7 linked regions of the Homo sapiens genome follow. The protein of the gene in region 4 purifies or fractionates together with the protein of the main gene of each other region. This does not show direct contact. Each region holds a gene or a part of one and is shown on either strand. Other genes may lie near its edges.

Evidence for each region.
Region 1: the proteins of SLC22A9 (region 4) and SACM1L purify together in Homo sapiens (affinity purification with mass spectrometry; 3 studies listed by BioGRID and IntAct, with this or other methods). This does not show direct contact.
Region 2: the proteins of SLC22A9 (region 4) and GHITM purify together in Homo sapiens (affinity purification with mass spectrometry; 3 studies listed by BioGRID and IntAct, with this or other methods). This does not show direct contact.
Region 3: the proteins of SLC22A9 (region 4) and ALG10 purify together in Homo sapiens (affinity purification with mass spectrometry; 3 studies listed by BioGRID and IntAct, with this or other methods). This does not show direct contact.
Region 5: the proteins of SLC22A9 (region 4) and SLC16A10 purify together in Homo sapiens (affinity purification with mass spectrometry; 2 studies listed by BioGRID and IntAct, with this or other methods). This does not show direct contact.
Region 6: the proteins of SLC22A9 (region 4) and TMEM67 purify together in Homo sapiens (affinity purification with mass spectrometry; 3 studies listed by BioGRID and IntAct, with this or other methods). This does not show direct contact.
Region 7: the proteins of SLC22A9 (region 4) and LMBR1 purify together in Homo sapiens (affinity purification with mass spectrometry; 3 studies listed by BioGRID and IntAct, with this or other methods). This does not show direct contact.

What each region holds. Positions count from the first base shown.
Region 1 is NC_000003.12:45,743,018-45,746,472, reverse strand, and holds the end of SACM1L (phosphatidylinositol-3-phosphatase SAC1), read right to left. Parts: intron 2,941-3,455; coding exon 2,804-2,940; coding exon of another isoform or gene 2,738-2,803; 3' UTR 1,064-2,737; downstream 1-1,063.
Region 2 is NC_000010.11:84,142,505-84,147,202, forward strand, and holds part of GHITM (growth hormone-inducible transmembrane protein), read left to right. Parts: intron 1-150; coding exon 151-250; intron 251-1,490; coding exon 1,491-1,602; intron 1,603-2,370; coding exon 2,371-2,512; intron 2,513-4,698. UniProt on the Homo sapiens protein: Plays an important role in maintenance of mitochondrial morphology and in mediating either calcium or potassium/proton antiport. Mediates proton-dependent calcium efflux from mitochondrion.
Region 3 is NC_000012.12:34,024,701-34,029,205, forward strand, and holds the end of ALG10 (dol-P-Glc:Glc(2)Man(9)GlcNAc(2)-PP-Dol alpha-1,2-glucosyltransferase), read left to right. Parts: intron 1-1,162; coding exon 1,163-2,215; 3' UTR 2,216-3,602; downstream 3,603-4,505. UniProt on the Homo sapiens protein: Dol-P-Glc:Glc(2)Man(9)GlcNAc(2)-PP-Dol alpha-1,2-glucosyltransferase that operates in the biosynthetic pathway of dolichol-linked oligosaccharides, the glycan precursors employed in protein asparagine (N)-glycosylation.
Region 4 is NC_000011.10:63,400,095-63,404,792, reverse strand, and holds part of SLC22A9 (organic anion transporter 7), read right to left. Parts: intron 1-4,698. UniProt on the Homo sapiens protein: Sodium-independent organic anion transporter, exhibits high specificity for sulfated conjugates of xenobiotics and steroid hormones such as estrone 3-sulfate (E1S) and dehydroepiandrosterone sulfate (DHEAS).
Region 5 is NC_000006.12:111,089,694-111,094,391, reverse strand, and holds part of SLC16A10 (monocarboxylate transporter 10), read right to left. Parts: intron 1-4,698. UniProt on the Homo sapiens protein: Sodium- and proton-independent thyroid hormones and aromatic acids transporter.
Region 6 is NC_000008.11:93,777,696-93,782,393, forward strand, and holds part of TMEM67 (meckelin isoform 1 precursor), read left to right. Parts: intron 1-2,897; coding exon 2,898-3,052; intron 3,053-3,178; coding exon 3,179-3,287; intron 3,288-3,962; coding exon 3,963-4,049; intron 4,050-4,698. UniProt on the Homo sapiens protein: Required for ciliary structure and function. Part of the tectonic-like complex which is required for tissue-specific ciliogenesis and may regulate ciliary membrane composition.
Region 7 is NC_000007.14:156,724,859-156,729,556, forward strand, and holds part of LMBR1 (limb region 1 protein homolog), read right to left. Parts: intron 3,863-4,698; coding exon 3,786-3,862; intron 3,150-3,785; coding exon 3,072-3,149; intron 980-3,071; coding exon 906-979; intron 668-905; coding exon 577-667; intron 1-576. UniProt on the Homo sapiens protein: Putative membrane receptor.

The sequences.
Region 1 (3,455 bases), on a different chromosome or scaffold from region 4:
GCTCCAGGGGTATCCCTGCAGCAGGCTCCAGGGACTCTCCGCCCTCCTGGCAACAGCAAGCAACAGTGGTGGTAACGCGGACCAGGGTCCAGAGCAGTGGTGGCTCCAGGCCTGGAGGCAGGCCCCACTCGGCCACACAGGGGTGGGGGCGGCGCAGTCGGCTGCCACAGGGACACGGGGCACAGGGAACGTGGGGCACAGGGGTCTCACCATCACCACGGCTGCTCCTGCAGCCACCACTCACACCTCCCTGCTACGGCCGGCACAATGGCAGCAGCCACTCCAGACGGCCCACTGCTGCCATCACTAGGTACCAATGTGTTTCCATCACTATTTCCCTCATGCTGACACCTTCCTGTGGAGGTGTCATTTTCTAATAAGCAATATTTTCCCACATCAGCTGGGATTCATAACATTTTGAAAAACAAATTACAATTTGAAGGTGGGGGACACCTTTTTATGGACATTACACTTTACTAAATATTTCCCTGGGTTTCTCTATAACTAAAAATAAAAACTATAAGGAGATACAAAATTTCTTAAGTGATCATAACTGGAAAGCAAAATTGCAGAAGCTACTGATTTTCTTGCTTACTCTAATTTTTCTATGATGATCATGCATTGCTTTGTGTATTAATTTGTCTTCACACTGCTGTAAAGAACTACCTGAGACTGGGTAACATATAAAGAAAAGAGGTTTGACTCACAGTTCCGCATGGCTGGGGAGGCCTCACAAAACTTCATCATGGCAGAAGGTGAAGGGAAAGCAAAGCACATCTTAACACGGTGGCAGGAAAGTGAGCGAGCAAGGGGGTAAATGCCAAACACTTTTAAACCATCAGACCTCGTGCAAACTCATGAAAACAGCATGGGGGAAACCATCCCCCATGATCCAACCACCTCCCACCAGGTACCTCCCTCAACACGTAGGGATTACAATTTGAGATGAGATTTGGGTGGGTGGGGACACAGAGCCAAACCGTCTATCATTTTGCATGATTTTTAGCATTCTAAGATCAAAAAGAAAAACATCACTTTCAAAGTACATGAATGATACCAATAATAGAAAAGAATATGACATTTTATTTTCACTTATGGACATACAGTACATGAATTTAGAAATAAAATCGTCGCAGGATTCTGAAATACTGATACCTTAAGATCTAACACACTGATATTAGTCCATTCCCTACAAAGCAGCCACATTAGCAGTTCAGATTTGGTCTTTGTTGTAGCTGTTGACATTAAGTTCTTTAAGTGAAATGCCCAGCAGCATTTAAATAATATTTTACAGCAGACATGAACTAAGTTTCAATATTCCATCTTTGGAACAAATTATGCTTATTTACATGTTAACAGGTGGCTATATTTACTTACCCTATTGTGAGTTTAATGACTGATTTTAAACTACAGAGGGTTTTCCAGCTATTATTTCCTTTAGTTTCTAAAAGTAACGACTTATATTAATGTTTTATAAAAGATAGTGATGAAAAAAAGGTAATGCTGAAATAAAGGCGCTTTTAGAAATATTTAAGGACAACATAAGGTATTAATATTGGAAAAAAACTGTACATATTTTCAAGCACAACACTGAAATATTGCAGCAGTGTTTAACTGAATTATTTAAAATAGTGGTAATTATACTACCTTACATACCGTTCTAATATTTAAATCTCTTAATTACAATTTGAATATACAATCTGACTTACAATTAGAACTATGCACAGTTTCCGAAGCATATTTTTCAGGTTTGTTTTTGCACAAAAATTAACGTTTAAGTTGGTCCTTGATTTGGAGTACTATAACTACCTGGAAGCACTAAGTTTTAGACACATTCATTGATAGCCAACAAAATCCTTGACAGAGTGAAAAACATCAAGAGTACCATGCGTGAAAAAGCAGCTGTTACCCTCCAAGTGCAATATGAAATCTAGAACAAGACCCTCTCAGAGGCCTGCGTGTCTCAATGAGTGACCCTCAAAGAAACCAAAATGTATAGGAGGAAGTAGCTGACCAGTCATGGGCATCTTCCACATTGGGATAATCTTTAAAACAGAGGCAGCTTTGGACCTCTAGCGTAAGAGATAGACTTTACATTCTTTGATTTTATTTACACTTTTTTAAAAAGATAAAGTATATCTGAATTCTCTCATCACACCTAAACTGCTGGTGCACTGGCAGTTCAAGCTGATTAAAGTCATGAGGCAGCCCACCAGAGACTTTAAAGAACCCCAGACCTCATCCTCCTCTTTCCTATCATGAAGTCACAGACTGTCTCATCAAACTACTTGATGTCTGTAAGAGACTTACATTTTATAAACACAGTTAGCTTATTACTGAACTTTTAAGAAAAGTCCAAAGATGTGTGGAAAAGTATGCCTGCTAATAGTGACCGCTTCTACAATGACAATAATGAAACTGAGCTACAAAAATAATTTTGCTGTTTTAAATAATGAAAGGAGCTAGGTTTTTAAAATATATTACTTATTCTGCAACAGCTAATTAAATTGACAATCAATAGAATACAATGAACAGATTCAGCTTCCATTCTGCAAGCTGAATTCAGGTTATATTTTAATTACAGAATAGCTTCAAATTATAAATCTAACTGTCCCAATAGTAAAGAGACCATCAAGGCAGTAACATCAGATCAATTCTGTCATCATCCTGCATGGAGCACAAGATGTGCTTTTGGATAAAGGCATTAAAAAGACCTTGGGCTGATGTGGAAAGCGGGTCAGTAAAGACTCCAGTTCTGCACAATGGAATCTTCCAAGCCAAGCCGCTTTCCACAAATACAAATTCAGTCTATCTTTTCTTTCTGGACCAGTCTGGGAGCATCGACAAAATCTTTGCCATTGTAAAGAATGATAAAAAATGTTCCAATGCTTGCAACTCCCCAGAAGAGCACATAGGCCAGTGTTTCTGTCCAAGTGTCACCTGTTGATATTAAGAAACAAAAAGCTAAATAAGTCGTTTGTTGATATCAGACCCAGTTTTCAGCTGTTTAGCACATTTTGGCAACATTAAAGTTTACTAGCACATTCACAGGAAAAATATAAGAACCTCTTAATTAAGGTTTAAACCAGTGGTTCTCAAACCCTGGCTAGTACCAGAATCTTCTGCAGGGCTTGATAAAGCATCAACTGTTGGGCCCCAGGAATCTGCATTCTAGCAAGTTCCTAGTACCCAGGTGATGCTGATGCTACCGATCAAGAGGCTACACTTTGAGAACCACTGGACTAAATGATTTCATATTATATTATACAAATAATAATGATCACTTTTAGTATATTTTAATAATACAAATAACTATTAAGTTTAATTCATAGTTCTATAACAGATATGAGCTATTGTCAAAACACCTGCACAAAAAATTAATAGAATATTCATAAATACCAAACATAAGTTATACATAACTTTTCTGAAGTTATGTATATTTTGTAGAGTATTTT
Region 2 (4,698 bases), on a different chromosome or scaffold from region 4:
GCTAATAAATTTCCATAGTGAAGTTAGGTATATAGAAAGTACCAAGTTTCTTTAACTAGAGTTTTCTAGTGTAAAGGGATCTTGCATTTTATTTTATTAACGTTCTGTTTTCATGTGGGTGGTACGTGTCTTTGTTTGCATGTGTGTCAGGAATATGCCACCAAAACAAGAATTGGGATCCGGCGTGGGAGAACTGGCCAAGAACTCAAAGAGGCAGCATTGGAACCATCGATGGAAAAAATATTTAAAAGTAGGTGGCTATCTTTAGTTTTTAACCTAGAATCTATGGATATGTTTTAAGAGGTCCATGAACAACTTCCTAAAAATATATGTGTATTTGTGCATTTTCTGGGAAGACCACATTATTATTCTGAGATCTGACGACCCAGAAAAGATTGGTACTTTGCACTGGATTCAGTGGTTATCAATCATATTTCTTCCAGTGGAAATTTTACTTTCCTTTTTTTTAAAGAAAAGGATTATTAATATGCCATGGTCCAAAAGGTATACTCTGTTGAGAAAGTTCATTTTAAGTGTGTAGAATCCTCATTCAAGCATATAATATTTGTGTATGTTTCAGATTAAGAATAAATCACCAACACATAGATGTTAATAAAAGCCTAGCTGTCCAAGAAGAATCCTTTAACTCACTGCTCACATAGGGCCTCAGGAGGGCAGTACTTTAATATATTGCCAGTTTGGTTCAGTTTGGATATCAACTTTGCAAGTTCAGAAACTAGATTGTTAATCATCCTAAAGCTATTCAAAGAATACCACTGCTCCTTAATAATCTTGCAAAATGTCTTTACAGTGGGAGAGAGCCCTAATCAGTATCCTTCAGGTCATTTCTTTCTGATTTGACCCTAGAGACCAAATCATGCAAATTATGTAGTGACAGCCTAGTAATATTCTTAGTAAACGAATTAGACTAAAAGAATAAGATGCCCTTTATGAATACCTCTATTGAGTTAGAGTTGATTAGTTGCCTCTCAGTACCCTAAAACGGGAGCCTCCTCTCACTTGATTCTGCTGCATAAACACTGATTATATTTTCTCTTTTTTCTTGATTTCCACGTAAAGCATCATTTGTGTTAATACCATGCAGTATGGTATGACTGTTAACATTTCCTTCTCATTTTTTACTTTCCATGAATGTCATGTGAATATACTTCAACCTCTTATTAGTAAAATAATAGGTATCACAGAAGTAGCTCCACGTCTACAGGTATACTGCTCCCTCAAATATTGTTGGAGGGAGGTTGAAGATTCACCAAGCCTGATCCTTTCTTTTTTGTACTGATTTTTACACCTTTGTTTCAGGAGTGTTTTTTTCTACTGGTTACCTAACATTGAGGCAATTTCTGTACCCCATATGCACTGATTATGGCTTCTATTAAATATGGTACATGATTTGATTCCCTTGATAAATATTTTAAAGGCTTTGTCCAGATGTGCCAGTACTAACCTGCATTTCCTTCTGTGTTCTGCAGTTGATCAGATGGGAAGATGGTTTGTTGCTGGAGGGGCTGCTGTTGGTCTTGGAGCATTGTGCTACTATGGCTTGGGACTGTCTAATGAGATTGGAGCTATTGAAAAGGCTGTGTAAGTAAATTGTTTTAAGTAAACTGTTCCTAAACAACTCCAGCCTTAAAACAAAAATTCAAATTTTCTTCTCATTCCTATCTTTAGTCACTTTGGAATGTTTTGTGTCTAGTCTTTGTGTATACACACAAATAGAGAATCTCTTTTTGCTTCTTTGACATTTATTTATTCAAATCTAAATAAAAATCTTTTAGCAAGGTTATATGTGTTTAAGCAAAGAGAAAATATGAAATATGTTTTTTGTTTGTTTGTTTGTTTGTTTTTTTGGAGAGAGAGTCTTGCTCTATCTCCCAGGCTGGGGTGCAGTGGCGCGATCTTGGCTCACTGCAACCTCCGCCTCCTGGGTTCAGGCAATTCTCCTGCCTCAGGCTCCTGTAGGTGGGATTACAGGCACATGCCACCATGCCCGGCTATTTTTTGTATTTTTAGTAGAGACGGGGTTTCACCATTTTGGCCAGGCTGGTCTCGATCTCCTGACCTCAGGTGATCCACCCACCTCAGCCTCCCAAAGTGCTGGGATTACAGGCATGAGCCACCGCACCCAGCCAAAAATATGTTGTTTTTTATATGTGCTTGTATGTTTTATCTCATTTAGTCCTTACAGTAACTCCCAAGTATGCATAATTATCATAATTATTTCCATGATAAATGAAGTGAATAAGATTTAAAGTGTAAAATGATTTATCCCGAGGTCGCCCAGCTAGTGTGTGACTCAACCAGAAATCAAATCTGTAATTTCATAGATTAATCATGTCATGTTTCTTACAGAATTTGGCCTCAGTATGTCAAGGATAGAATTCATTCCACCTATATGTACTTAGCAGGGAGTATTGGTTTAACAGCTTTGTCTGCCATAGCAATCAGCAGAACGCCTGTTCTCATGAACTTCATGATGAGAGGCTCTTGGGTGGTAAGTCAGCTGTTTTTGTTTTCCTTTTTCATCTAAAGATCAAAAGATTAGATAAAATATATTGGAGGGAAGGGTTATTAAATGGAAAGAATACTGTATTGAACAAGTTTTTGTTCAAATAATGTATGAATTACAGGTTGAGCATCCCTAATTTAAAATCCAGAAATGCTCCAAAATCCAAAACATTTGTAGTGTCAACATGATGCTCAAAGAAAATTGTAGCATTTCACATGTTGGGTTTTTGAATTAGGGATCCTGAACCCTAACAACAATGAAGTGTAATGATAAATAGTCCGAAATCTGAAGTCTGAAACACTTCTGGTCCCAGACATTTCTGATGAGAGTTACTCAACCTGTATTAGTGCAGCTGAGATAAAAGTAGGAAGTTCATTCTAGGTAGGTCAGCTATTATTCTTTATTAAACATGTATTCGAATAATACCAGAGGAGTTAGAAATCAAACTTACAGAGACAACATTTTTGTCTAGCAGCAGATATCAGACAGCCTCTAATTTGTAGCAGTTTACTAAAAAAATAAAGCAAATGCAAAATCATCTTAGAAGTCAGAGGGAAATGCCTATGCAGTTAAGAGCAGAATAGTGCTGCTACTATTATTCCTAAGATTCTTGACCTTATAGAAGATTTTATATTTAATCGGTTTCTCTGGAGCCCTTGTTATTTTGCTAGATAAGAGAATTTGAATATGTGTCCCCTATTCTCCTGCTATTTGGTAGAAGAGATGAACTGGAATAAGTGGCACAGATACGCAATAAGAAAGTGCAAAGTCAGTTGAGAGTTTCTGTCTTGGACTGTTAGGCAAGTTCCGTGAAGGAGACATTTATTTCATCAGGGTTGTTGAAGGCTAACATGTCTCATTTATTTTAGAAGTAGACAAGAGGGCCAGGTGCAGTGGCTCACACCTGTAATCTCAGCGTTTTAGGAGGCTGAGGCAGGAAGATTGCTTGAGCCCAGGAATTTGAGACCAACCTGAGCAACATAGTGAGACACTGTCTGTAATTTTTAAAGAAATAGAAAATTTTAAAAATTAAAAAAAAATTTTTTTAAGTAGACAAGGGCGGTCCAATTTTACCAAACAGTTTAAGGGAAGAGGAGGTAGGAAAACCTAATTTCAGAGGTGACTTACAATCCCATTAGAGGGAAATTCAAGTGTTTGAGGTCTGGAGGGTAAAGAAGACGTGGTTAGAAAGGATACAGTTGTCAAGCTGAGGAGAGAACCTAAGCAGTCGGAGGCCATTGGAGATACTGGAACAACAAAAGCGTGATTTATATTTGAGTTTTTAGAACCAATGTGGAAGAGACATGGAGCAGGTGTACCAGCTGTGCCTTTGTAAGATCTGAAATGAGGGATGATAAGAACCTGAACTAGAGCAGAGTGTGATACTGGAGGGGAAGGAGAGTTCATGTAACACTGATTCCCCACATAGGGACGAAAACCATATTATTTTCACTGTGTTGTACTTTACTAAAGGATAACCATTTACAGTAGCAGCCATTTGGATATTTATATATTCTTAGGATCATGCTTTTTCACATAGACGTCATGAATCTCCCAGCCCAGAGGTTCACAAAGGCACAGAATGTTTCACTGGGGATGTCAGTTTTAATCAGAAGCAAATAATTTAAAACAATACTTTTGTAATAAACATGACAATATTTACCTAAAATTTTAGGCCCTAAAATGAGGCTTCAAAGAAGTTTTGTGTTTGGGCCATATCCTCAGTCCCTTCTGGGCAAAAGATTACCCTCTTCCACTGTTAGTAATACAGAAAATAGGAAAGCCAAAGACAAGTGTTACAGAGATGAAGATGTAACCTTTTGGGTGTGACAGACATATATATACAAACACACACATAGACACACAGATAATGTCAAAGTTTGTCCCAAGTGCATCTGAGGAGAGGTATCTGATCTTGCTCTTGGGCAGCCAGGGTACCTACTAGAAAAAGCTTTTGAGATGAGACAGTACCAGAGTAAGTCGACCAGATATGGAAGGAGATATTCTTAGGCATGATGGATTGAATTAAGGAGGCCTGAAATTTTGGGGCATGTTGGCAGCTGTGCCAGTTCCGTATGGTTGGAATGCAGAGTTTGGAGTGAGACTGGATCATAGAAGATCTTAAAAAAATTTAATTGCTGCTGTCCACAGAGGATGTGTGAAATAGTTTG
Region 3 (4,505 bases), on a different chromosome or scaffold from region 4:
AAACTTAATAAATGGAAGATGCTTCGAACAGTGCCAGAGATATAGTAAGGGTTCAGTAAATATTAACTCTAATAATTATTTTTAACCTTAAGAGATGATTTCAGTAGTGTCAGTTATGATAGAGTGGTAAACATAAGATGCTATGAGGATACAGAGAAGGAGCAGGGGAACACTTACTGCTTTTCTGGGAGGGAGGGGAGTATGTGGCATTTGGTAAGTCCTCACAGAGAAGATGGTACCAGAGCTGAGTCTTGATGAACGGATAGGGCTGTGTAGGGTGGGGAATTAATCCTGGGGAGACAAACAACATAAGAAAAGGAAGAAAGGCATTGAACAACGAGTTGCAGGGAATTGGTCTTGGAATTACAGGATTAAAAAGTAGAGGGATGTAAGGCTAGAGAAGTAGGTCATGAATGCCCTTATGTGTCACAGAGAGGACTTTGAACTTTAGCATGTAATGTAAAGACCTTAATTTTAATCAAGGAAATGGCATGGTCTGATTTGGTGATTTAGATTAAGTGGAGTATACAATTCAAGAACATAAGAACACTTTCAAATTCTGAAACAGCATGTCAGAAAGGCCAAAAGAAGATATATAACTTTAGACAGGCTCACTTTTCAGAAAAATACCTGTTATTTCATCATGAAAATTTCATCTTGAAAAAGTAAGTCTGGGTATGGTAGTATACCATATGCATGTTTATATTCTCCCTTGTGTAGAGTTATGAAGGATTTCCTTAAAGGAAAGTGGTTCATTATGGCTAAGTGAATCCTTACTGAAGGCACTAAAACATAAGCTCAGGGAAATGGAGCCAGCACCGTGTCCTATTTATCTCCATAGTCCACATAGAACTTAGTTAGTATCTTGCACTCAATAACTCCTTAACTAATCATTGCCTGATTCCAATTGTGTTAAGCTATAGAAGATTTGGCATACACATGGTCTCCAAACTGATAGGTATACATAAAAAGTACCAGGAAGTGTTCTTATAAATGTATATTGTGTTTTTGCAAAGCCAGAGATAAGATTAATATTGATTAATTTTATTTAAAGAAGGTTTGAGTAGTTGAGTAGTTTTTAAATAAATTTCTTCATTAGGTAAGCAGAAATAGCATTTTTTGTCATGAAAATAATTTTATCTGTGTTTCTTCTTCCTCCAAGGCTGCCTCAAGTATCCAGAGAGTCTTGTCAACATTAACACTAGCAGTATTTCCAACACTTTATTTTTTTAACTTCCTTTATTATACAGAAGCAGGATCTATGTTTTTTACTCTTTTTGCGTATTTGATGTGTCTTTATGGAAATCATAAAACTTCAGCCTTCCTTGGATTTTGTGGCTTCATGTTTCGGCAAACAAATATCATCTGGGCTGTCTTCTGTGCAGGAAATGTCATTGCACAAAAGTTAACGGAGGCTTGGAAAACTGAGCTACAAAAGAAGGAAGACAGACTTCCACCTATTAAAGGACCATTTGCAGAATTCAGAAAAATTCTTCAGTTTCTTTTGGCTTATTCCATGTCCTTTAAAAACTTGAGTATGCTTTTGCTTCTGACTTGGCCCTACATCCTTCTGGGATTTCTGTTTTGTGCTTTTGTAGTAGTTAATGGTGGAATTGTTATTGGCGATCGGAGTAGTCATGAAGCCTGTCTTCATTTTCCTCAACTATTCTACTTTTTTTCATTTACTCTCTTTTTTTCCTTTCCTCATCTCCTGTCTCCTAGCAAAATTAAGACTTTTCTTTCCTTAGTTTGGAAACGTAGAATTCTGTTTTTTGTGGTTACCTTAGTCTCTGTGTTTTTAGTTTGGAAATTCACTTATGCTCATAAATACTTGCTAGCAGACAATAGACATTATACTTTCTATGTGTGGAAAAGAGTTTTTCAAAGATATGAAACTGTAAAATATTTGTTAGTTCCAGCCTATATATTTGCTGGTTGGAGTATAGCTGACTCATTGAAATCAAAGTCAATTTTTTGGAATTTAATGTTTTTCATATGCTTGTTCACTGTTATAGTTCCTCAGAAACTGCTGGAATTTCGTTACTTCATTTTACCTTATGTCATTTATAGGCTTAACATACCTCTGCCTCCCACATCCAGACTCATTTGTGAACTGAGCTGCTATGCAGTTGTTAATTTCATAACTTTTTTCATCTTTCTGAACAAGACTTTTCAGTGGCCAAATAGTCAGGACATTCAAAGGTTTATGTGGTAATATCAGTGATATTTCGAACTGTGAAAATGGACTTAATAATTAGACCATTTCTACAAAGAACAACTGAATAGGTGGAAAACATGGAATTTCTTTTAGGTGCAGTGGTGGTCTTCAAATTACATTAGTTTTTTTTATATATATTTTAAACATATGTAAGAAATTAAGTGGCAAAGAACTGAGAAAGCTTAAGACCTGCTTCAAAAGCCTGAAAAATGGAAAAATAAAATTGTTTTCAGATATCTCATATCACTCTCATAATGTTGGCCCCTTAAAAAGCTTGGGAATGTTTTGTATGTACAAGTTTATTAAAACTGGGTATGCTTCATATTACTGGAATGAATTTATTCTCTTCAGAGAGAAATATTAGGTTAGTGCAAAAGTAATTGTGGTTTTTGCCATTGAAAGTAATGGCAAAACCACAATTACTTTTTTACCAACCTAATAACAATGTATTAGCAAATATTTACAAATGGTCAGGTGATATTCTTGATTGAAAAGTTGCTTAACATTTCAGTAATATAATTTTAATTCTAAGTCAAAATACAAATGCATAGATAGTAAATGATAAAGTAGAGACTCATATATGCCTGTCTAGACATCAAATTGTTGGTTATTGTTTACAATCTAGAAATGATGAAGCTCTTTCACTAATTCCTAATATGAAATGTATGATGGCCAAAGACAAATTGTATTGATTATAATCCTTTAAAAGGGGGATTTCCTTTCTGAAATACATATTGTATTAGCTTCCCAGGGCTTCCATAACAAATGACGACAAACTTGGGTGCTTACAACAATTTTCCTCACAGTCTGGAGGCCAGAAGTCTAAAATCAAAGTGTCAGCAGAGTTGGTTCCTTCTGGAGGCTCTAAGGAAGAATCCATAAACAGACATTCTATGTCTGTTTCCTAATATCTTGTGGCTGTGTGCAATTCTTGGAGTTCTTTGGCTTCTGGACAAATCTTGTCCAAGTATTGCAGACAGCAATCTTCACTCCAGTCTCTGCCTCTGTGTTCACACGGCCTTTCCCTCTGTCTTCTCTTCATTACCTTTTAAGGACAGTGTCTTTGAATGTAGGGCCCACCCTGATCTAGGGTGATTGTGTCTGGAGACCCTTAATTATGTTTACAAAGACCCATGTTCCAAGTAAGTTTGTATTCACATGATCTGAGTAGACATTGTCTCTTCGTGGGATACTTTTCAGTCCATGACAGTTACTAAAGGACATTTTAGGATAGTCTTCATATGATTGTTAGGAGACTACCTTTTTAGATTTTTTTTATTATATATCAAATTATAGTTGTATATACTTATGAGAAACAAAGTGGCATTATGATTTTTGAATATAATGTGGGATTAAATAAAGCTAATCTATCCATCACCTCAAATATTTGACATATTTTGTGATGAAAACATTTGAAATTTACTCTCAGCAGTATTGAAATGTACAGTGCTTAATTATTAGCTGTATTCACCATGTTGTGTAATAGATCTAAAAAAAGTCAAACATGCTCCTTCTATCTAATTGAGGCTTTGTATCTTTTGATTATCATCTCCCCATTCCCACATCCCCGGCCTCTAGCAACCATCATTCTTCTCTCTACTTCTGTGAGTTTAATTGTTTTAGATTACACAAATAAGTGAGATCATGTGGTATTTGTCTTTCTGTGCTTGGCTTATTTCACTTACCATAATGTCCTCCAGGTTCATCCATATTGTTGCAAATGACACAATTTCTACCTTTTTAAAGGCCAAATAGTATTTTATTGTGTATATATGCCACATTTTCTTTATCCATGCATCCATTGATGGACATTTAGGTTGATTGAATAACTTGATAATTGTGACTTGTCTGCAGTGAACGTGGAGTGCAGACTTCTCTTTGACATACGGATTTCAAGTCTTCTGGATAAATGCCCAGAAGTGGGATTGTTGGATCAGGAGATAATATCTTAGCCGATACCTTTTAAATAACTCTCAGTATCTTTACTGAGAGGTTAAAAAGTAAGTGACTTCTGAGGTAATATAAAGCTAAAGGTGACTAGTGTTTGATTCCATTATCTATTTAAAAAAATGTCAGAATTGAAAGTTAAGAAATCATTTGGTCTGACCTTATTTTGTAGATTAGGGAACAACTGCTGGGGTAGGATTATTTTGTGTTACTTTTTGAATTTTGTGTTTATTATTTTGAGTGTATTTTTTGGGTTGTCATTCCATTATAGGAAAGTATTATTTGGGCATGTTAAATTTGACATGTAAACTTAGAATTATGAATAGAACACTTCTTTTAA
Region 4 (4,698 bases):
ACATAAACTGTACATGGGTCGGATAAGAGCCCCAAGGGCATCTGCCAGTATAAACAAGCTTCCTGTGTGAAGGTTCCCCTGGTCAAGGGTCAAACAACTAGGCATCAGGCCATCCACTGAAGGAAAAGTATTGCGTGAACACTGTAAACCCCTACATCCAGCTCCCATTCATTTTCTTTTTAGGGCAGGGTTTTTAACCACTCTGGTACTGAAATCCAAATTTAGTTGGGGGCTCTCAAAACACTTATTCATTTTTAAAATATTGTGATAAAAATACATAAGATGAGATTTACCTAGAAAACCCCATCGTCTCAGCCCAAAATCTCCTTAAGCTGAGAGATTTACCTACTTAACAAATTTTTAGATACAGTACAGTATTTACTGTAAGCATAATGTTGTACAGCAGATTTCCAAGACATTTGCATCTTGCATAACTGATACTTTATGCCCTTAAATGACAACTCCCTATTCCCCTCTGTCCGCTGTCCCTGAAAACCACTATCCTACTTTCTGCTTCTATGAGTTGACTTTTTTTTAGATATCTCATATAAGTGAAATCAGACAGTGTTTGTTCTTCTGTGCTAGCCCAAGGTTCATACATGTTGGGTATGACCTTTTTCTTTCTTTTTTGAGGCTAATATTCCATTATAGGTATATAACATATTTTGCTTATTCATTCATATGTAAATGAATAGTTAAGTTGCTTCCATATCTTGGCAATTGTGAATAATGCTGCAATGAACATATGGGAGTGCAAATATCTCTTCCAAATACTGATTTCAATTCTTTTCTGAAGAATTGAGATCCCATAACTGAAAATACAGAATCATATGGTAGTTCTAACCTCCATAGTGTCTTCATGGTGAGTGTAGCATTTTATATGGCCACCAACAATATACAAGGGTTCCAATTTCTCCATATCCTTTGAACACTTATTATTTCTTGTTTATTTATTGATTGATTGATTGATTTATTTATTTATTTTTGATAATGATAATCCTAATAGGTATAGGATGCTATTTCATTTTTTACGTGTTTAATCCTCCATAAAACACTTCATATTTTATCTCCTTTTCTTACCTTTTTATCTCTTTTTCTTCCCTAATTGCTCTTGTTAGAATTTCAAGGACTATATTGAATAGAAGTGGTGAGAGTAGAATCCTTATCTTGTTCTTGATCTTAAAGGAAGAGTTTTCAGTTTTTTATTGTTGAGTATAATATTAATACTGGACTTTTCACATTAGTCATTTATCAGTGAGCTTTATATGTTCATATGCTCTCATGCTGCTCTTTAGTGCCATTTTTTAAAGTTCAAGGTTTCCCTTTGGAAATAATAATAATGGAGGTGGGGTGCTGACAGACTCACTCAACTTTTGTTTGTGTGGGAAAGTATTTCTTTTCATTATTGAGGGATGGTATGCAAGATACAGTAATTTTTGTTAGCCTTTTATTTTTTCATCTCTCTGAACATATCATCCCACTCTCTGTTGGCCTACAAGGTTTCTGCAGAAATCTGCCATCCCCCAATCGTCTTATGGAGGACATTCTCTTAGTATGTAACAAGTCAGTCACTTTATCTTGCTGCTTTCAAAATTCTCTCTTTTCTTTGATAATTTAATCAGAAAATGGATTAATATGGAATTCTTTTTTACTTTTATATATTTGGTTTTTAGTCTTCTGACTATATTAATTTCACTTAATAGTCTGAAATTCTTAGAATCTGTCCATTTATCCAATTGTCAATTATATGTCATTGACTTTTTATAACAATCTTTTGTATTGATATATTTTGGAAAGTGTTTTTCTTCTCCTTAGATCTTCCTTCAGGGAAGCTGAAGCAAAAGTTGATGAGCATGTATATGTGTGAACTTCAAAAAATGGTGAAAGGTGAGCAAACATACAAATATTCTAAAAATGTTAGTGTTTATGGGAATTTTAGTGTCCTTAATTTCCAAAATAATTACATATTGAGTGAAGACAGTATAGTGTAAAAGGAAAGTAATATGGTATAATGGCTAGAAGTGCAAGATTTAATGTCAGATTAGTGTTCAAGTTCTGATTGTACCATTTACTAATTATGTGATCTTTTAAAACATAATTTTACATTTAGTTAAAAACCTTTTTTTTTTTCAACTTTCATTTTAGGTTAGGGGTACACATGTAGGTTTGTTACATGGGTAAATGTCACAGTGGAGCTCAAATAGCCAAATCAATCCTAAACAAAAGGAACAGAGTGAGAGGCATCACACTACCTGATTTCAAACTACACAACAAGGCTACAGTAATGAAAACAGCATGATACTGGCATAAGAGCAGATACATAGACCAATGCAACACAGTCATTAGATAACCCAGAAATAAAGCCACATATCTACAACTGCCTGATCTTTGACAAAGCTGACAAAAGCAAGCAATGGGGAAAGACTCCCTATTCAATAGATAGTGCTTGGATAACTGGCTAGCAATATGCAAAATTTTGAAACTAGACCCCTTCCTTTGACCATATACAAAATTCAACCCAAGATGGATGAAAGGCTTGAATGTAAGATGTAAAAGTGTTAAAAACACAGAAGAAAAGAGGAAATACCACGCTGAACATCAGCCCTGGCAAAGATTTTATGATAAAGACTCCAAAAAGCAATTGCAACAAAACCAAAAATTGAAAAGCAGGAACTAATTAAACCAAGGAGCTTCTGAACAGCAAAGGAAGCTAACACCAGAGTAAACAGACAACCTATAGAATGGGAAAAAATATTTGCAGGTTATGCATTTGACAAAGGTCTAATGTTTGGACTCTATGTGGGACTCAAATAAAGCAACAATAAAACAAACAAACAAACAAACCCATTAAAAATGGGCAAAGGACATGAACTGACAGTTCTCCAGAGAAGACATACACATGGCCAACAAGCATATAAAAAAACTTATAACATCACTAATCATTTGAGAAATACAAATGAAAGCAATAATGAGATAGCATCTTACACCAGTCAGAATGGCTGTTATTAAAAAGTCAAAAATCAACATGCTGGTGAGGTTGTGGAGAAAAGGGAACACTAGTAGACTGCGGGTGGGAATGCAAATTAGCTCAGCCACTCCAGCTTTGTTCTTTTTGCTTAGGATTTCTTTCGCTTTATGGGTCTTTTTTGATTTTGTGTAACTTTTAGGACTAAAAAAAATTCTGTGAAGAATGTCATTGGTATTTTGATAGAGATTGCATTGAATCTGTAGATTGCCTTGGGTAATAGGGACATTTTAACAATATTGGTTCTTCTAATCCATGCACATGGGATGTCTTTCTATTTTTTGTATCAGCTTATTGTTTTCATTGTAGAAATCTTTCAGTTCTTTGGTGTAGTTTATTACTAGGTATTTTACTTTTTGTAACGAATTGCAAATGAGATTGCTTTCTTAATTTCCTTTTCAGATTGCTGTTTATTGAAATATAGTTATGGTAATTATGTTTTATGTTGATTTTGTATCCTGCGACTTTACTGAATTTTTTGTTTATTCAGATAGATTTTTGAGAGGGTCTTTGGGTTTTTGTAAATATAAAATTATATCATATGCAAATGAGGACATTTTGATTTCTTCCTTTCCAATATGGATTCCTTTTATTTTTTTCTCTTGCCTAGTTGCTCTGGGTAGGACGTCCACTACTGTATTGAGTAAAAGTGGTGAAAGTGGGCATACTTGTCTTCTACATGATCTTAGAAGAAGAGCTTTCATTTTTTTCCCCATTCTCTATGGTGTTAGCTGTGGGTTTGTTACATATGATCTTATTGTTTTGAGGTATTTTCCTTTTATGCTCAGTTTGTTGAGAGCTTTTATCATAAAGAGAGAATTCGAATTTTATCATATGCTTTTGGCGTCTGTTGAAATGATTATATATTTTTGTCCTTGATCCTACTAATGTTATGTTTTATGTTTATTGACTTGCCTATGCAGAACCATTCTTGCATCCTTGGGATGAATCACACTTGGTCGTGATGAATGATCTCTTTAATGTGTTTTAAAATTTTGTTTGCTACTATTTTGTTGAGAATTTTTACATCTATGTTCATCAGTGATGTTTTCTTTTTTGTGTGTGTTCGTTTCTGGTTTTGGCATCAGGGTAATGCTGGCCTTGTGAAATGAGTTTGGAAGTATTCCCACCTCCTTTATTTTCTCAAATAGTTTGTGTACAATAGGTATGAGTTCTTTAAATGTTTGGTAGAATTCAGTTGTTCTGAAGCTATCAGGTTCTAGATTGTTCTTTGATGGAGGACTTTTTATTACTGCTGGTGTCTTGCTGCTGGTTATTGCTCTGTTCATGGTTTGTATTTCTTAATGTGTCAACTTGGTTCAATCAATATTCTATGTGTCAAAAAAATTTATCCACCTCTTCTAGGGTTTTCAATTTATTGGCATAAAGTTGCTCATAATAGTCTCTAATGATCCATTGGATTTCTGTGATGTCAGTTGTAATATCTCTTTTTTATCTTCAATTTGATTTATTTTTGTTTTCTCTATTTTTTTCTTAGTTTGCATAAAGCCTTGTTGATGTTGTTTATTTTTCACAAAACAACTTTTGACTTGTATTTTTTGTATCAATTTCGTTTATTTCTTGCTCTGATCTTTATTATTTCTTTCCTGCTGCTAATTTTGGGTTTCATTTGTTGTTGCATTTCTACTTCTTTAAGGTACATCCTAGGCTAT
Region 5 (4,698 bases), on a different chromosome or scaffold from region 4:
AGGGAAGGTTGTATGGTGTAGCTGAAAAATGAGTTCATGTTAGTTTAGTATGATGTACCTGTGTACCCAAATGGAACTGTCCAGAAATAGTAAATAAGTCTTGAACACAGTGATGAGATTTGGAAATAACAGCCCCAAGACAGTGGATGGAAGAAAGCAGGAAAAGTGAAGCAAGTATATGGCCAGGGGCTGAGCCTCAAGGAACTGCAACAAAAAGATGTAGCAAATCACATCAAAAGCAGAGTACAATTTATTCTAAAAGACACCTCAAAATCGCTCCTGAAAAAATGTGTTATGCTTTTCATTTTGGCTAATTGGGTTCTTTCAGCAGTTAATTTTATTGAAATTATTAATTTTTAATTCCATGAAAAAACACCACAGGAATCTCACATTGTTGTATTTAATTAGAATTCACTATATATGCTATTCAGTCTCGCACTTAATCCAGAAACATTCTGGAAATGAAGTATGAAACGCCCATACCATACTCACTATTATTCCAAAATCCTAGAACCATTTTTATAATCTTCTCACTTATTTTAGCAGGTAGTTTAGATTGGTTTATTGCCATAAGTGAGTTCTCTTAGCTTTTCTACCTCTCTTCCAGTGTAAATAACAATCAGGTATTTTTCTTATAGTGAAAGATGTATAGGACCATGAACCAGATTATTTGTTCACTGTAACTAGCTCAACAAAGGACTGTTACTAAAAATTTTTCTAAGATACAGAAATGGCTAGTTATGCAGGCCGCTTTTCCTACTAAACAAAACAAAATCTCTTTAGCGTAAAGGCAAAACATAGCAGTTAATTTCTGAACTATAGCCAAAATTTCCTATAATCTAGGTGTCACATACAACAGTACAATGTGGATATCAGTATAACTGTAAATGTGAAAACTTGGTGTGGGGGGAACAATTTCTGAGGAAGCACTAACTGACCTGAAGTTTCAGAGGGGCTAGCAAGATACATGGAGAGGTGCTGCAAGATTCATTCATCCCTAAATGCTACTGAAAACCCTACTTTGTGACTGTAACCATCTAAAAAGAAATCTGTCTCCATACAGGGAGTGTAGAGTTGCGTTAAAGATTATAGCCAAAGAACCTCCCTTTCAGGACCTTTTTGATAATCTACTTCCAAACTACTTAATTTTTAATGTTTTGATTTACACTTTTTTTGTGTGTGAGACAAAGTTTCTCTCTTGTTGCCCAGGCTGGAGTGAAATGGCACAATCTCAAAACAAATAAAAAGCCCTAGGCTCTTCATTAGTTCCATGGGTTTTCCAGTATCTAGCAGAGTTAAAACAAAGTTGCTCTTTCTTTTTTCTTTTTTTCTTTTCTTTTTTTTTTTTTTGAGACGGAGTTTCACTCTTGTTGCCCATGCTGGAGTACAGTGGCGCCATCTTGGCTCACTACAACCTCTGCCTCCCAGGTTCAAGCAATTCTCCTGCCTCAGCCTCCCGAATAGCTGGGATTACACGCATCCGCCACCATGCCCAGCTAATTTTTTGTATTTTTAGTAGAAACGGGGTTTCACCATCTTGGCCAGGCTGGTCTCAATCTCCTGACCTCAGGTGATCCACCTGCCTTGGCCTCCCAAAGGGCTGGGATTACAGGCATGAGCCACTGCGCCCAGCCCAAAATTGCACTTTCTAAAGAAAAACAATGTTCCACTTAATTGTATTTCTTTGTATTCTTCCCCAGAGTGTCTGATTCCTCTCTACCTAGGCAAGAAGAATACACATGTGAACAGGTAAAAATTCAACTAAAAAGAGACAACTTGGCCAGGCGCGGTGGCTTATGCCTGTAATCCCAGCACTTTGGGAAGCCGAGGCAGGTGGATCACGAGGTCAGGAGTTTGAGACCAGCCTGGCCAATATGGTGAAACCCTGTCTCTACTAAAAATACAAAAATTAGCCAGGTGTGGTGGCAAGCGCAGGTAGTCCAGCTACTCGGAAGGCTGAGGCAGAATTGCTTGCATCCGGGAGGCAGTGGTTGCAGTGAGCCGAGATGGTGCCACTGCACTCCAGCCTGGGCGACAGAGTGAGAATCTGTCTCAAAAAAAAAAAAAAAAAAAAAACAACAAAAAAAGAGACAACTCAAGCTTAGCTTGCTCCCTCAGACAGAGCAGTATGTGTGAGACACTCCTCTGAGTGCCATGTCATTGGCAGCTGGGCACCATAATGGGACTGTGATGCCGTCAGCATTTTTCATTGGTTCTACTGCCCAACTTGGAGTTGGCTTACTTCCCCTTTCCAAAGTCTTAATTTCACCAAGTGAGATTTATAACCATAGAGAAAGAGGCGTCAAATGCCTTCCCCACCCCCAACCCCACCACCTGTTGAAATGACCTTAGAATTTCAGCCTTTTATAGTAAAACTGAGTCCTGTTATATTGAAAATCCTTCAGGGAAATATTCTATTACTTCTGGTCTGTTATTAATTTGTATCCCACAACAGATCCTAAGCTACTTTGAAACAGCTGACATTTTCTCTCTCAGTCATTATCTCCAGTCCCCAGGACAGAGCCCAAAACAAAGCGTGTTAGATAACTTGGTAAACATTTGTATAAAGAGAATTAACAGTAAGATGTGTAAACTCACTTACACCTTAGTGTGAATGAACTTCTTCAGGCCCTTTCCTGAGAAATTTTGGGTAGATTATCCATTGCGTGGGAAGAGTTAACAGAGCCCTGAAGAGAAGTGAGCCTAAGAAAGGCTCCTCCTCAGTTCTGCCTAGAAACATTGTCCTGCTGTGGATCAATCTAAAAGTTCTTCAAAGGAAACCCCAGACTTTTGCTTGAACGGCATATGGAAGTATCTTGTTCTTCTATGGAAGTCTCTCTACACTTCAGAAATATAGTTTGAGACATTAATAATTTGCAATTGTTTATTCACCACAAAGTAGGACCAAGAAACAGGGACCCTTCTTTCTAATCCCAGAATGCATGGTAGAGCACTCAACCAATCACTAACACTTAAATTAATCAACAACATAAAAAACATCGTATTTGCAGAATGTTATCTAGTCAATGCAATATGATGAATGATTAAAACCCAGCTCCTGGTGCTTGCTTCAGCAGCACTTTGAACAACAATCTACTAAAATTGGAATGACACAGAGAAGATTAGCGTGACCCCTGAACAAGGATGACATGCAAATTCATGAAGCATTCCATATTTTAAATAAATAAATAATTAAAATAAAAATCCCAGCTCTTAGAGTCAGATAAGCCTGGGGTTGAATTCTGGCTCCACTTCTTACTTAAACTCTGTAAGCCTGAGTTCCCATATCTGAAAAGAAAGATATTAACAAAGTCTATCAGAGAATCGTGGTAAGGTTTAAATAGGAACGCATCTAAAGTGCTTAGCCACAGGAAAGTACTCAAGAAATGCGCACCATCATTTGGAGACCTAGATTCCATTCCACCACCACCTCCCTGTATATCCTTAGGCTAGTCACTTGCTATAAAGAAGTAATGGAAACAAGGAGACAGAACTAGCTGTACTCTAACACCAGGATTATCCATCATGAGTACGGTAATAGAAAATAGACCAAAACTTTGAAAAATAAAAGGCTTAAACAAATTCCAGATATTTTTTGGCATGTATTTGAAGCTTGCATATGCTTGATCACAGACGACTCAGCATTCGAATATCAAAGTGAAAAAGTGTGACCAATCAAACTTCAAAGCAGATATTCTCAAATAACAGTGACTGTGGTAGATGAGGGACTTCATGAAACACCTTTGTGTGTGTGTGTGTGCACTGAAGGAAAGAGAAAGGGGTAGGGGACAGGGGAAGAGAGAGAGATCTCAACAATAACTGGCTTAAAGACTATCTTGTAACCATTTTTTCAGCACTAAGTTTAAATCTGTTTTCTTCCTCAGCCCTTAACATCTATCAGTCATATATGTATTACCTAGCACCCAAGTAATGGCCATTGTTCAATCTAGATGCTGTGTTATACAGGGCCATTACAAGTGCATAGGGCCCTTCTGTAGGAATCAGACAAAGGGCACCCAGAGCCCAGGCTGGTTTTCAGTCCCCACTTACCCCTGAGTTGGGCACCCTTGTGCAATGGCACAACCATAAATAGATATACAGCAGTCAGGCAGAGAAACACAAAGATCTTCACACATTTAACTAGCACACCTGTGCAACTGTTTATATGATATATACCCACACATACACAAACATGACTGAAAAAGTTGTCAAAGACTGAACTGAGTAAAAAGAAAAAAGATATTCATCAAAATGGAAAACACAAAGTTCCACAGAGTGCAAAAGAAAAACCAGGTTCCTTCCCTCACTCTCAGCTACCCAGTATTGGGATATTGTGTAGCCAATTAGAACTTTGGGGACAAGTAGTAGGTAGAGACTTTGACACTGCAAAATTCTCATCCCTGGCAAAGCTATGGTCTCTCTGGCAATTGCTCTCTCTCTCTCTCAAAAAAAAAAAAAAAAAAAAAAAAAAAAAAAAAAAAAACCCACCCACAGACACCAAAGGATCTACTTAACTGAATTTGCAAAAACAATGATAAACAAAAGACTGCTGTTATCTTGACTGCATTAAAAAATCTGTAATCCCAGGCAGGAATATGGTAAATGTTGGAACTAGTCTTTAAATGTTAACTCTGTCAATTCTGCCTTCTTTTGGGGCTTTTCTCTCTGACACCCAATACTCATATAGAAAAGACAACA
Region 6 (4,698 bases), on a different chromosome or scaffold from region 4:
GATTGCACTGTGGTCTGAGAGACAGTTTGTTGTCATTTCTGTTCTTTTACATTTGCTGAGGAGTGCTTTATTTCCAAGTATGTGGTCAATTTGGGAATAAGTGCGAGGTGGTGCTGAGAAGAATGTATATTCTGTTGATTTGGGGTGGAGAGTTCTGTAGGTGTCTATTAGGTCCATTTGGTGCAGAGCTGAGTTCAAGTCCTGGATATTCTTGTTAACCTTCTGTCTTGTTGATCTGCCTAATAGTGACAGTGGGGTGTTAAAGTCTCCCATTATTATTGTGTGGGAGTCTAAGTCTCTTTGTAGGTCTCTAAGGACTTGCTTTATGAATCTGGGTGCTCCTGTATTGGGTGCATATATATTTAGGATAGTTAGCTCTTCTTGTTGAATTGATCCCTTTACCATTATGTAATGCCCTTCTTTGTCTCTTTTGATCTTTGTTGGTTTAAAGTCTATTTTATCAGAGACTAGGATTGCAATGCCTGCTTTCTTTTGCTTTCCATTTGCTTGGTATATCTTCCTCCATCCCTTTATTTTGAGCCTATGTGTGTCTTTGCACGTGAGATGGGTCTCCTGAATACAGCACATTGATGGGTCTTTACTCTTTATCCAATTTGCCAGTCTGTGTCTTTTAATTGGAGCATTTAGCCCATTTACGTTTAAGGTGTAATATTGGTATGTGTGAATTTGATCCTGTCATTATGATGTTAGCTGGTCATTTTGCCCATTAGTTGATGCAGTTTCTTCCTAGCATTGATGATCTTTACAATTTGGCATGTTTTTGCAGTGGCTGGTACTGGTTGTTCCTTCCCATGTTTAGTGCTTCCTTCAGGAGCTTATGTAAGGCAGGCCTGGTGGTGTCAAAATCTCTCAACCTTTGCTTGTCTGTAAAGGATTTTATTTCTCCTTCACTTATGAAGCTTAGTTTGGCTGGATATGAAATTCTGGCTTGAAAATTCTTTTCTTTAAGAATGTTGAATATTGGCCCCCACTCTCTTCTGGCTGTAGAGTTCCTGCCAAGAAATCTGCTGTTAGTCTGATGGGCTTCCCTTTGTGGGTAACCCAACCTTTCTCTCTGGCTGCCCTGAATATTTTTTCCTTCAGTTTAACCTTGGTGAATCTGACAATTATGTGTCTTGGGGTTCCTCTTCTCAAGGAGTATCTTTGTTTTGTTCTCTGTATTTCCTGAATTTGAATGTTGGCCTGCCTTGCTAGGTTGGGGAAGTTCTCCTGGATAATATCCTGAAGAGTGTCTTCCAACTTGGTTCCATTTTCCCCATCACTTTCAGGTACACCAATCAAACATAGATTTGGTCTTTTCACATAGTCCCATATTTCTTGGAGGCTTTGCTCATTTCTTTTTAGTCTTTTTTCTCTAACCTTGTCGTCTCGCTTTATTTCATTAATTTGATCTTCAATTACTGATACCCTTTCTTCCACTTGACCAAATCGGCTACTGAAGCTTGTGCATGCATCACATAGTTCTTGTGCCATGTCTTTTAGCTCCATCAGGTCATTTAAGGTCTTCTCTACACTGTTTATTCTAGTTAGCCATTTGTCTAATCTTTTTTCAAGGTTTTTAGCTTCCTTCCGACGGGTTCGAACATCCTCCTTTAGCTCAGAGAAGTTTGTTATTACCGACCTTCTGAAGCGTACTTCTGTCAGTTTGTCAAAGTCATTCTCCATCCAGCTTTGTTCTGTTGCTGGTGAGGAGCTGCATTCCTTTGGAAGAGAGGAGGCACTCTGGTTTTTAGAATTTTCAGCTTTTCTGCTCTGGTTTCTCCCCATCTTTATGGTTTTACCTACCTTTGGTCTTTGATGTTGGTGACCTACAGATGGGGTTTTGATGTGGATGGGGTTTTGATGTGGATGTCCTTTTTGTTGATGTTGATGCTATTCCTTTCTATTTGTTAGTTTTCCTTCTAACAGGTCCCTCAGCTGCAGGTCTGTTGGAGTTTGCTAGAGGTCCACTCCAGACGCTGTTTTCCTGGATATTACCAGCGGAGGTTGTAGAACAGCAAATATTGCTGCCTGATCCTTCCTCTGGAAGCTTCGTCCCAGAGGGGCGCCCACCTGTATGAGGTGTCTGTCGGCCCCTACTGGGAGGTGTCTCCCAGTTAGGCTACACAGGGTCAGGGATCCACTTGAGGAGGCAGTCTATCCATTCTCTGAGCTCAAACGCTGTGCTGGGAGAACCACTGCTCTCTTCAGAGCTGTCAGACAGGGATGTTTAACTCTGCAGAAGTTTCTGGTGCCTTTTGTTCAGCTATGCCCTGCTGCCAGAGGTGGAGTCAACAGAGGCAGCAGGCCTTGCTGAACTGCGGTGGGCTCCACCCAGTTGGAGCTTCCCCGGCTGCTTTGTTTTCCTACTCAAGCCTCAGCAATGGCAGACACCCCTCCCCCTGCCAGCCTGCTGCCTGGCAGGTTGATCTCAGCTGTGCTAGCAGTGAGCAAGGCTCTGTAGGCGTGGGACCCACCGAGCCAGGCGTGGGATGTAATCTGGTGTGCCGTTTGCTAAGACCATTGGAAAAGCGCAGTGTTTAGGTGGAGGTGTCCCATTTTTCCAGGTACAGTCTGTCACGGCTTCCCTTGGCTAGGAAAGGGAAATCCCCCAACCCCTTGCGCTTCCTGGGTGAGGTGATGCCCCACCCTGCTTCAGCTTGCCCTCCATGGGCTGCACCCACTGTCCAACCAGTCCCAATGAGATGAACCAGGTATCTCAGTTGGAAATGCAGAAATCACCTGCCTTCTGCGTTGATTATGCTGGGAGCTGCAGACCGGAGCTGTTCCTACTCGGCCATCTTGGAACAGACCTGCACAAAGTAAAATTTTTATATCAACTTTTGCATAGACTGTTCAGGTTCATGTTACTTTTCTTTGCCATTGTTCTGTTGTAGGTATATGCCAATCTAACATCTTGTCAAGCTCTTGGAAATATGTGTGTGATGAACATGAATTCTTACGACTTTGCCACATTTGATGCATGTGGACTATTTCAGTTTATCTTTGAAAATACTGCTGGACTGAGCACTGTTCATTCTATTTCATTTTGGTAAGGATATTTTGATTGATGAAATGTTATTTTGACTGAATTCAGTGCAGTTATTAATATATTCACAAATACTAATAATAAGAAATATTTATTCTCCATTATTAAAACAGTTGTAACTGTTTATAGGAGACAGAATCTTCCTTGGCTGTTTTATGGAGACCAGTTAGGATTAGCACCTCAAGTGCTCAGTTCTACCTCTCTTCCTACAAATTTCAGTTTTAAAGGAGAAAACCAGGTAAAAGTGTCTAATATCATTAGAGGATAACTACATTTTGATTTATAATTTTAAAAGGTAATAAAGTTACAATTCTTGCCTTTTTAGGTTGTTGGTACAAACTCAGTTACTAAACTAAATATAAATGTCAACAACTCATAAGAACTAAATAGTATAGAGTTTAGCTATCTTACTGAATATGTGGATACTTCTGGATTGTGTGGTTATGGCAAGAAGTTGTACTTGTAGGGTTGGGAAGAGCAGTTTTCATCACCAAATGCAAAAAATCTCTGTCCTGTTTTTTCCACACCTTAAAGAAGTGCTTCCAAAGATTGATTGGGGCTCTGTGACATTGCTCAGCACTTCACAGGGCCAAATTCCTACCTGTAACTTTTTGACCTTCCAGAATGAGGAGATACTATTCTCCCACACTGCCTCCTATTTAACAGGTTCAAAAGGAGGCTATCTGTCACTAGTGCTGCCTCTCAATTCTAGAATAATAATTTTCATGCAAAAAACCAGTCTAATTCTTTCAGGTCTATTTAGTCATAGAAATAGATTAATTGAACCTCAAAATAAAGATAATTGAATGTAATTTTTCAACAAAAAAGATCAGTCAACAATGAAAATTTCTTTATAGGATATTGTATTACTTTCAGAGTATTTGACCTGATTTTGCTCGTTTTCTTTAATCAGAATACAAAACTGAAGTTTGTTGCTGCTTCCTATGATATAAGAGGAAATTTTCTCAAGTGGCAAACTTTAGAAGGAGGTGTTTTACAGGTAAGCATGATTCTAGTTAAAGAATTAATAACATGCATTATTTTTGCCTGAGACAAAGCCAAGAGGAAAAGATTATTGTATGAATAAAGCATCAGTTACATACTACAGTTGATTTTTTTTCTGATGCTTTAAATTAGACTTTCTTAAGTTTTTTGTTTGTTTGTTTGTTTGTTTGTTTTTTCTTTTTTTTTTGAGATGGAGTCTCGCTTTCTTAACCAGGCTGGAGTGCAGTGGCGCGATCTCAGCTCACTACAAGCTCCGCCTTGCGGGTTCACGCCATTCTCCTGCTTCAGCTGGGAGCTGGAACTACAGGCGACTGCCACCACGTCCAGCTAATTTTTATGTACTTTTAGTAGAGACGGGATTTCACCATGTTAGCCAGGATGGTCTTGATCTCCTGACCTCGTGATCCGCCCTTCTTGGCCTCCCAAAGCGCTGGGATTGCAGGCATGAGCCACCATGCCTGGCTAAGTTTTATTTCTTTAAAGTTATGACTTTCATTTATAACAGATGTTCCCTTAACTTTTCATATCCTTGATACATTAAATAAGTATTATGTAGAGCATATATCCATGTTCGGGTTTGAGAACTCTTGAGTATAAGAATAGAAAACATTTGTGAGATTTATCTGTTGTATTATTTTGCTGCA
Region 7 (4,698 bases), on a different chromosome or scaffold from region 4:
CAAGCTTTCAGCTCTTATTAGTTATTCTTCTTTGTCAGCCTACGGGAATATTTTATAAAGATTCAGTCACTATATACGGCAACAGCCTTTTTATTCTGAACCCAATGACATGTTGTGGAAAAAGTCAAATTAGCCTCAGACTACAAAATGTTTCTGAATAGAACTCTTCCGTCTTACTTTAATTATTCAAATTTGAAATACTTTGTCCCTACTACTTGTAGCAACTAAGTTCTTCAGACTTCAAACAAGCTCCCTGAAGTACAGTTAGCACAATCCAAGTTACTCATTAGCAATACGTTTTCTTTAGAGGAAAAAGAGTCCTTTCAGGAGCCTTCTATAGCTAGTTAACAAGCTCTGCAGTTCTCCGCATTTACAGTGAATGGACGCCATCCAAATTAAACAGGGTACATCCCTTTCCCACTCACTCAGCATTTTGAAAATCTTCCAGTTTGTGTTTACGCAACTTACAAACAAATACCTATCACTGCAAATGAACCATTCAGAATGACTATTAAATAAAGCAGTCTGTCAGGGAAGGCAAACGAGAGGCCACAGTCACCTAAGATTCTACCTTACCTTTGTCATAGTTGTGTCATCTTTCTTGGGAGTAAAGTTTCCAAAAAATCGAAGGCTATAGAAGCCGACAACAGAGGACACCATAAGATAGCTGTGAGAATCAAGGAAAAAAACTCTCCAACAGAATGCAAGTTTCCTAAGTTCTCGGCAGTCTCCAAAAAGTCTTAAGGCCCATAGGAAAAGCAAAACAAAAAGCCGCTTTAAGTGCTTGAGGAAGACTAACCTGTTGTTTTCTCTTCTAGACAAGTGTCTTAGTAAATAACTACTGCCCCAGAAAACTTGGTATAAAATTTGTGGATAGGCTGAACGTTCAGTTAAAGAAAGGATACAAAATCAAAATGATTTCAAGCGCAGCTCCCACAAAACCAAACGTAGAAAGAGAGGCATTTCCTATTCCAGGCCCCTGGGGTGGGAGAAAGACACTTTTCAGAATTTGATGACACCATTATATTGGTTTCCCTAAAACAGCTGTTTCATAAAATAAGACAGTTGAAATTATGAATGTTTACTACTTTGAAATAACATCTAGACTTTCAAAGGCCAACAAGACATGACATTAGACTGATTTCATCAACAAATTCAGGCACCATGTTAACAATTTTAATAAGCTCAAGAAAAATTACTTATCTCAAATGTAATTTAAGTTACTTGTCAAGATGACATGATTATGCTTACTGTTATAAAATGGGGCAACTTGCCACTTGAGGAAAAAAATCCTGAATAGTTTTGGGAAAGAGTTTTTAAAAACACAATAGAAAAATAAGAATAGGATACATAGCTATCTGAATGCTTACACAATATACAAAGATTACACAATTCAAGTATGTCAAAATTAAGCTAAGAGTAGAAAGAGAGTAAATGTGCATATCCTGTTCCCATACCTGAAAGTTTCCTTTGCCCAAATTTTCCTTGGGAATTCAGAGTTACAAAGGATGTAACTGTTAACATAGATTTTTAAAAAAGTAATGCTATAAATTTTTTCCTAAACAATTATCCCTATCTCAAAAACTATCTTTACCTAGAACTTAAAAAAAAAACACAAAAAAGTTACTATTTTTATAATTAGATCTGAAAAAATCATTCCCTACTGAAGTATTTTCAAAGATTACTAATAAAAGAAACTATCTGAATGTTTTACTAGTCAGCACAGATTACATCTAATAGAAACACCAGGGATAATTAAGAATCTACAGTCAGCCCAATAAAAAATAACTTTTTGACAATCTTTTGAAGAAGAAATAAATGATGCTGGTAGAAAGTGATGGGGTTCAAGACACACTACTCCAAAATTTGGGACCTGGTATTTGAGAAAACCTAGGAAGGTCACACACTGATCTGTCTCCTTCTCCTGCGAAGCAGGCCATAAGACCCCCATCCAAGGGTGCCCCCCGCAACCCACCCAGAGGAGAAGCACATGTTTATCTCCGGAGACACGAGGACACCGAGAAGAATATGAACAGGCCTTGCTAAATCCCCCCGGTTTATAATCATTAGATCACACCCCTGTCTTCCAATCATACTTCCCACTACTGTCCACTCTTCAACAAACCAGAGCATAAAAGTACACAGCTTTTTCTGTTTCTTTGGTCTTCTTTATTTCTGAAGACCCCTGTGATATGTAAAACTTATCTTAAATAAGTTTGTCAGCTTTTCTCTTATTAATCTTTTGTTATAGGCATCTCAGCCATGAACCTTCCAATAGGTTAGAAAAAGGTATTACTTCTTCTCCCCTACAGAAGCTTATTGATCAACAGAGATAATACTTTGGAATTATGCTATCTCAAGAGAAGCCATGTAGGAAGGATTAAGAGTATCTAATTTTTTTACACAATTATACAGGGATCTCCTATGACGTACAAGTCATTCTCCACTAAGCACTAAGGGGGATGGGTACAAAAATATACTATAGGGCTTGGGACTTGTTTTGTTGGTATAGTAAAATGGGTTAAAAGTGACTAGGAAGTCAGTATAGTAAGCGACTTCCTGTTCTATCAGTGGGTTTGGGTATAAAACTAAAGAAAAAGATAAGACTGTACATGGCAAAGGGTAGTTTCTTGTCTGTCTGTAGGATGAGGCACCTGGAGCATGATGGTGGGCTTGTACTCATGGAGAAGAGGCTGTAAGTGAATACAACAATGGCAATAACAGATGGCACAAGGTCCTGGAAAGACTCAGGTGGGGGGATCTGAATCAAGACTATGGCTAAAGGAATTTCATATAGCTAAATGAATTTCAGTAAAATCAAGATAAACTCTGATAAGAAATCTAAAAGGAAATTCCAACACTTGAAAAAAGGCCCTGTCAATCCAAAGTAAAAAATTAGAAACAAAAATCACAGTTTATATTTTAAAGGCTCTTTGCATAAAGAAATTCATACAACTTGAAGTATATACATGCACAAAGGTGAATGTTTTCATTTGCTTACTTGAAATACTCAGGGTATAGACATAGAATACTTTTGCAAAAGAAAGACATTTTAAAGGATTTTACTTTACCCTTGTTCCTTTTGGCATTGCTGTTTCATCAACCAATAGGCAAAGAATATTACAAGCCACCAAGAGGACCGAGATGGACTACAAGACAAACAGCAAACTGTCAGCTCTCAAGATTTTTCACCAATACAAAATATTAAAATCTAGGTAACCAAATACACGTTTCAGAATAGAGGGAAAGCAGTCAAGACCAAAACGCTATATATAAAACTAAAGTAATCAGACTACAAACAAGAACTGAAGAAATTCTAAAAGATTCTGCAAGTTATTGTCATTTCAAAGCTTGTGACAAAAGCTGGTAGTATATAGATCCTTTTACTAAGTGATCTCACCAATTGGAAACACACAACTCCACAGACTTAAAAAAGTGGTAAAATATTATCAGAACTAACTTCATAATGTAATTTTCATATTTTATCACAGAATTTAAAGCAGGTTATCTGCAACACCTTGTTTTCTTAATTTTCAATGAAAACAAAGACTGAATTTCCTGCTTTCATGAAGAAACAGATAATCTTCAGAATTTTTTTTAAATTGCCATTAATTTCCATTTTTGCTTTATTGGATTTTCATAAATAAAGGCATAGATGGATTTTAATCCTGTTGATAGAAAACTAGTTTATGAAAAACCATTTAGCTGAGGGAGCTGCCATACTCAAATGCTGAAGTAAATAAAATATAATTTGCTTTTATTTAACTAGGCAAATAAATTCTTACTGTCTCAATAAGAAGGAGAACCATAACAGCGGGATACACCAAATTTCTTTCCCATGCTGAAGCCTTTTTTCGCCTCTCTATTAAAAGGAAAAACAAAATAAAACAAAGTTTTCTCCAAATTAACATTTTCCTTCCATAATGCTATAATCTGTTTTATACATAATTTCTTTTTAAAAAACATAAATTACTTTTAATTTTCCTCCATAAACTAAAAAAACTACAGATAGGGCCTTGCTCTGTCACCCAGGCTAGAGCACAATGGTATAGCCGCAGCTCACTGCAACCTCCTAGGCTCAAGTGATCCTCCCATCTCAACCACCCAAGTAGCTGGGACTACAGATACATGCCACCATGCCTGGCTAATTTTTTTATTTATTTTTTGTGGAGACAGGTTCTTGCTATGTTGCCCAGGCTGGTCTTGAACTCCTGGGCTCAAACGATCCTCCCCGCTCAGCTTCCTAACATGGTGAGATTACAGGCACGAACTACGATACCCAGACAAAAATCAGAGTTTTAAAACCAGTTTGCTACATTAAACACCTCAATCCTGTGATGCGTAAATTTCAGCTCTGTGAAGACATCTCAATCATTAAGGAAATATATTGTTGATATACAGCTGACTCTGAAAATACAGACATACAGTAGGCCTTCTATAGCCACAGGTTCTGCAATAATTTTCTACCATATGTGGATTTTGGTACCCATGGGGGTTCTGAAACCAGTCCCCCACGAATACTGAGGGCTATATTTGTATTTCATATAGATCTACATATTGATATATATATATATATCTGAATGAATAAAGTTATATGAATAAAAATCCCTTCTATTCTTTTTTTTTTTTTTTTGAGATGGAGTCTCGCTCTGTCTCCCAGGCTGGAGTGCAGTGGCACAATCTCGGCTCACTGCAACG